2 linked regions of the Homo sapiens genome follow. The protein of the gene in region 1 interacts with the protein of each later gene in a biochemical or structural test. Each region holds a gene or a part of one and is shown on either strand. Other genes may lie near its edges.

Evidence for each region.
Region 2: of the proteins of MAEA (region 1) and UBE2H, one has a biochemical effect on the other in vitro, tested with the Homo sapiens proteins (one study listed by BioGRID).

Annotation. Positions count from the first base shown.
Region 1 is NC_000004.12:1,337,723-1,340,919, reverse strand, and holds the end of MAEA (E3 ubiquitin-protein transferase MAEA), read right to left. Parts: intron 2,499-3,197; coding exon 2,303-2,498; coding exon of another isoform or gene 2,045-2,302; exon of another isoform or gene 1,853-2,044; intron 1,847-1,852; coding exon 1,751-1,846; 3' UTR 783-1,750; downstream 1-782.
Region 2 is NC_000007.14:129,855,428-129,859,250, forward strand, and holds part of UBE2H (ubiquitin-conjugating enzyme E2 H), read right to left. Parts: intron 3,515-3,823; coding exon 3,475-3,514; intron 2,137-3,474; coding exon 2,084-2,136; intron 1-2,083. UniProt on the Homo sapiens protein: Accepts ubiquitin from the E1 complex and catalyzes its covalent attachment to other proteins. E2 ubiquitin conjugating enzyme that transfers ubiquitin to MAEA, a core component of the CTLH E3 ubiquitin-protein ligase complex.

The sequences.
Region 1 (3,197 bases):
AGGATATTGACCGGGCAAGGCCAGGGGCTGGGAACAGTCTGTTTGGTGGTTACATGCATGTTACACAGAAATTCGTTATGTGAACTTAGAATGTGTGTGCTCCAGTATGTTCTACTCGAGTTAAAAAGGAAAGAACAGGACGCAAGACAAGGAAAGCCCCTGCACGTGAGGACGGTGGAGGCCGGGGCGGCTGCGTGGCAGTGGGGCCACAGGGTCTGCTTCGGCCGAGGGGACCTGGGGACGGGCGCTCCAAAGAAGAGCACGTGGGAATGTGGTGGGTTCCAGCTGGGTGCTGTGGAGGGGCCAGGGCAGCCACCATGGGGTAAGAGATGGGCTAAGGGGCACCAGGCTGGCCACAGGAGCTGCGACGGGGCACTGGAGAGAACAGGGGTGGGCGGTGGGGGGAAGGGCCAGTGGCCACAGCCCGCAGGCCTCCTTAGCCCAACCCTAGACTCAGCCCAAGCCGCAGGCCCAGGCTTGCTGGTGGCTGCAGCCTGAGCCCCCACCCCCAACAGACAATGGCCCGTGGGTCCCAGGAACCAGTGTCTGATTCACCCAGCTGCAAGCCGGGGCCTCAAGACGCTGGGGCCATCACGCCTCAGGGCAGCGCCCGAGAGGAGGACTGCGGTCCGGGCAGGAGTGGCCTCCAGCCGGCTTCTCAACTCCCGGTGGCCGTGGTGCCAGAAGCTACGCATATGCCCGCCATGCTGCCCGGGCCCCGGGGAGGAGCAGAACACAACCTCGGTGTTAGAAACGCACGGCAGCCTCGGCTCACACGGAAATGAGAAATAGAAAACCATTTTATTCGCATGGTTTACATTTACAGTTTATTAGCTAGTCAACATCAACATGCAAAAATAAGCACTAACTACAAACCTCTACGATACGGTTCTCTGTCAGCTACGGTGGTTCATTTGTTTTGAAAAGTCATCAGTACTTCTTTCAACTGAACGATTAATTTCTGTAATGGATAGCAATTAGACTCTACAGTTATGGAACCATCCGGCAAGGCCTCTGCAGAAATTTGGTCCCGTGGATTTCCACGTTATACATTCTCGAAGCAGGAAGTAAGGCGGCACACAGAGGGTGTGATATCGAAACGACGCAGCTACGAACACAGCCCCGCGATGTGATATCGAAACTATGCACGTACGAACACAGTCCCGCGGACACGACCCGCGAGGCAGGCGGGCGTCCTCGAAGCCAGCCCCCGACGGTGGCGGCGCCAGGCGTTTTGGCAGCAGCTCTCGAATGAAGCCATAAGTGTCCCTCGTGGCGCGGCATCGCGGGTCACTGCAGGTCAGTCCGGTGCCGCTGCCACCTTCCCCGGCCAGGCCAGGGCCAACAGGAAGTGGTGAAGGACCAGCCCGTTCTCCAAGTCTCATCGTTCACAGAAGGAAAGAAACTGAAAACACAGGGAAATCACGGACTCCTATATTTTAAACGTTCTTAAGTTTCCCTCGGTGTTTAGGTCAGTCTTTAAAGAAGAGTTTCCTTCGCAAGTTGAAAGTACTTTTCAGAAGCATCAAATGGTTGACGTGTTACAAAATCCTACCAATCCAAATGTTTTCAAGTACAAACTTATGAAACCTTATTTTCTCTCTTCCTAAGAGTATTTATCGTTGCTCACGGATCTTTGGTCGCAAGAAACAGAAACGCCGCGGCAGGCTGGAGCGTGGGACAGGAGGAAGGCGTGGCCTCCCCGCCCACTGCAGCCCGTCCCCGAGGCGTGCGCTTCACGACGTGGGGCCTACATGATGTACACCTTCTCGGCTTGTGAGAAGTGGAAGACTTCTTTGGTTCTCGGGCACACGACTTTATCATCTTGACGGATAGAAAGCAGAGACTGAAAAATAAAACCGGGAATGCATTAAGGCAAGCGACTACAACGTACACACGGATTTCCATGGAAAATCCCCACAATGAACCACCAGGGAATGACTCATCCTCTCAGGCAAAGTTCCTTCCCGAAGGCACACCTGCCAAAGAAATCCCGGGGCCACCTCGCCTGTCCTTCCCACCCCTTCATCCATTTCGAACGAAGCTAAGGCAGGGTGGGGCGAGAGGACAGCCCTGTCCCAATGGCGACGTGTGCCAGCCTGGCCCCGCTGCCCTGCCCGCCCCACACAGCCCTGTCCCGATGGCGACGCGTGCCAGCCTGGCCCCCCGCCCTGCCCGTCCCACACAGCCCTGTCCCGATGGCGATGCGTGCCAGCCTGGCCCCCCTGCCCTGCCCGTCCCACACAGCCCTGTCCCGATGGCGATGCGTGCCAGCCTGGCCCCCCTGCCCTGCCCCCCTCACATTGTAGCCGTAGACGTAGCCGTTGGGCAGCATCATGGGCGGATTGTTCTCGTTCATCACGTCGCCAGAAATCTTGCAGACCAGGCGGGAGTTGGCACAGTGGGCCATGGGCAGGGGCTGCGCCAGCTTGTTCAGGGAGCGGCTGCACACAGGGCAGTCAGGGCTCTTGGAGCTGCCGTCCTCCTTGTAGCACTGTCTGAGCATCGGGTCAAGGAAGGGTTGGGGGCCACTCAGGGCAGCCGGGGTGAGCCCAGCCCCCTGTGGCCACTCTGCCCTGGGCTGCGTGCCCTTCTGGCTATGTGGGCGCCATGCTGACTACACGGGGCTGTCTTTCGAGGCACAGGAAGTGCTGCACTCGACAGCTAAACAGCCCCACTGAGGCCTCGGTGGAGACAAGAAGCCTGCGCCTTCTCACCCCGGCCTCCAGCACCAGGACCACAGGCACAGAGTGGCTCCGTCGCCCGCCGCCCTCTCCCCGGCCACGCAACCTCTCCAGGCAGGACAAGAGCCACCCAGCAGGGACGTTCTGCTGGCACCTAGGAACAGGCAGTGGGCAAGCACGCCAGCCCTCTCGCCCAGAGTTCCACAAAGAGGGGACAAGGGAGGGGGCCTGAGTCTCATTCATACCCCGGCACAGCCAGGTACCAGCAGCAATCGCGAAACACTCACTGCCCTCTGGGCCTGAGGCAGGTCACATGAAAGACATTCATAGGCGGGGACAGAGTCAGTTGCAGGAGGACAGTCAGTCACAGGTGGGGACAGAGTCAGTCACAGGTGGGGACAGAGTCAGTCACAGGAGAGGGCAGAGTCAGTCACAGGCAGGGGTAGAGTCAGTAAGAGGCTGAGTCACAGGCAGGACGGAGTCAGTCACAGGTGAGACAGTCACAGGGCAGGG
Region 2 (3,823 bases), on another chromosome or scaffold:
AAAAAACCATCTTAAAAGGAATCCATTTAATCAAGCTCGGAGTGTATGTTCTTTCTTGTTGCCTCAACTATATGCCATCATCTCCCCTAAAACTCTCTTGTTAAACAGTTCTGGACATGATTAATTCACTCATTAAGACAACAAATAGTCGAACCCTTATTGTGCACCAGGCACTGTTACAGTCACGTGTGCGTGTGCGTGTGTATAGAGAGAGAGAGACGAGAACAAGACAAAGTCCTCACTCATGGTGCTTACAATCCAAGGGGATAAGATAAATAATATACAAATACCAGTTTTAGAAGCTTATTGAAAACGGGGTACTAGCCAGGCATGGTAGTATGCACCTATAGTCCCAGCTACTGGGGAGGCTGAGATGGGAGGACTGTTCGAGCCTAGGAGCTCAAGGCTGCAGTGAGCTATTATCGCACCACTGCATTCCAGCCTGGGCAACAGAGTGCAACTCTGTTTCTATGTATTAAAAAATAATTTTAAAATTAAAAAATATATATACAACTGGGTGCTGTGCTATGGAGGGGTGTGATTTCAGATGGAGTAGCTGGGAAAGGAAACTGCTCTGAGGAAGTAATATGTGAGATGAGTGAAGAAGGTGCTAACCACACAAAGATCAGGGGGGAATATCCCAGGTAGAGAAAATAATTTTTGAACGGCACAATCAGGTGGAGGCAGGGATTAACTGTGTTCTGCTGGTGACCAACCTTTCTCTGTGATTCTCATTTACCAATCTAGTTCAAGGATATCTGGCAAAAGTAACTTGCAGATTGTGGCTGGACTAAGAAGTCTTACCTACCTCAGACCACTAAAAGGTCGTACAAGTTCAACAAGAAGCAGCCATCCCTGGTTAAGCTCAGCCTCAACTGAGCTTTCCCTTCTTTTCTTGTGCCTCTCAGCAATGGTTACCTGTACCATTCATTCTTTCAACCCATACTGGTGAAGGGCACTGTGATAAGAGTCCTGGGCCTTACAGATGAATCAGACACACACCCGATAGCCCTTAAGATAGGAAATAATCTAGTAGCACAAAAAAATAGGCATAAACAACAAATACACAGTAGAAAGTAAAAGTGGACCATAAAAAAGGAGCTATAAAATGTAATGGTATCCAGAGATTACTTCCAGCTGGAGAATCAGCGGAAGTATACGGGGTAGGAGCACTGGAGTAGGTAGACTCTATGAAGCCTGAGATTTGGACATGTGGAGGGAAAAACAGATTTATTTGTTGTATCCCTAATTAACTTCAAATACACAACTGACCCTTGAACAACATGGGTCCACACACAGTTTGAACTGCATGGGTCCATTCACATGTGGTTTTCAATAAATACAGCTAGCCCTCCATGTCAGTGGGTTTCACAGGGATGACTGTGGGACTTGAGTAAGCATGAATTTTGGTATCTGCAGGTGGTCTGGGAACTGATCCCCTGCAGATACCAAGAGATGACTGTATTTTAACATATTTTCAGCTCCCCAACCAGGTGATAAGGAGGAAAGGCCTGATGCTCTTTATAACTCTCTGGGATATTCAGCATAGCATTTTGCAGAGCTGGGCAATTCATTTGTTGATTCCCTGTAAGAGATGGGGTGTCAATTTCAGCACTGAAGGTAAGGCTAAATTACTCTTCCTTCATAAGGAGGTTTTGGTCTTTGAAAAGATGATCCCCTAAAACCTCTTACTATATCATTGCTCTCTCATTTCAGAGGGACATTCCTAAGTAGTTTTAGTTTTTTCCAAAACCAAAATATGTATATATTATGTGCTAATACATACATATAAAATGTTTGCACATGTATTCATGTGTGTGCGCATGTACTCATGTGTGTGCACATGTATCACTATACCTTAAGTTTGGAATCTCAAAAAATCATTTTAAACTTCCACAGCTAAACTGATATATTTGTACTTAAGAGAAAACATTTTTTCCACTGATCAAACTTTCCCAGTCGGTCCCTCAAAAATCCCTTCCCATTACCAACAAAACATCTTAAACCAGAAAAGAAAAGCCAAACAACATTTTTTTAGGCAATGTCTCAACATCTCCAAAAAATATTCCATGGCCAAACTCACCATAGAGAGCTGTCCAAGTTTGATTAATTACATCTAGACACACAGTTCCTGACCTGAAACAGATGGAAAGAATGGCATGTTTTTAAAAATTAGAAAGTTAGTTGCATGTATCTGGCAACTAATTTTTACTTATCAAGAGAAATACTTCTAATAGATCTGTGAAAAAAAGAATCCCAATTGGGGAAAAGTATGATGAGGAACAGAATAGTACCAGGTCTTGAAGTGTCACCTTACAGACTGAAAGGGGAAAATAGTAACTATGCAATGGAGAAACCAGACAACACCTGAACCAGGTGCTGAGAACACAAGGGGCAGACAGACCTTGTGTGTCTCTGAATGTGATACCCCAAGAAGGACACCATCTTACTTTGTAGTTTTCTGGCCTTAAGTGTGTTCATGCCCTGAATCTAATGATCAGGAAACATCAGACAAACACAAATTGAGGAACAATCTATAAAATAACTGGTCTATGTTATTTTAAAAAGTGAATTTTATAAAAGATAAAGGCAGGCTGAGGAACTAATCCTGATTAAAGCAGTTTAAAGAAACATGACAACTAAATGTAATGTGTGATTCTAGACTGGATCCTTTATTGAAAGAAAAAAGTGCTAAAAAGTAAGTTACTGGAATATGGCAGTAGATTAAATAAGTATTGCATTAACGTTAAATTCCTGAATCTGACAACTATATACTGTGGATAGATAAGAGAATATCCTTGTTAGGATAACTGATACAATAAAATATTAATATTAAAGGACTAAGGGGCATGATGTATGTATATATACAACCTACTCACACAGAGTGCAGAAAAACCTGTTAGGTATGTTTGTGAGAGACAGTAAAACTTAGTGCCATGACAAATTAAAATTGCATCCCAAACAATAATATATTCTAAACAGCACTAGAAGTATAAAACAGGATATGCTGGAATATTTTAAAGTATCATTAATAAAATATTAGAAGGAAAGAAGGGGATAAATAAGATTCATTAACTGAAATGAAACTATAGTCATTTTGCCTTACTATCTATCAAGAATTGAGAAAATATTATAAGATCTGAAAATAGTCTATCTGTAGGCTGAAAACAGATCTCTGAACTGTGTCTACAAAAAGAGAAGTGAGATGTGGAATATTACTACTGTTTGCTGGGTAACAAGAAAAATGAAGGACCCAGTCACGACAATGGAAAAAAATAAGTGGTACAACAGCAGAATGTGAACTAAGTGATTGAGAACCTCATATCCTTTGGATTCTATCATTTACATGACCATTCATACAGTCCTACCTCCTGATAAGGTCCAAAAAGATAACCGAGGCTTTTTATAACACAGAGAAACACTAATCATGAGCAGTTGCTGCTAAAATTGAAACATTTTAAAATAGTTACTTACGCTTCATCAATGTTGGGATGGAAAATTTTATTCATGAATCCTGTAAAAAGAGATGTTAATTAGCAGCAAAAAGTATCCAGAGAACAATAAAAGTATTTCAGTACTGGAAACAATTTCAGTATTGGGAAAAGGTGATAATACTTATAAATCACTACTTTCAACCTTAGATCTTTCATTACTGATAAACATTATATTCTCCTGATAGCTCCAATTATTTGGAATACATCAGCATTCTATTAACAAATGAGCAAACTGGGAGAAATGCAGCTTCTTATACAAAACAATCATTAAAGCAACTGTTTTCTGAGCTATGAAGGTACTGCTCAAAGATAAATTATACTACTAAATG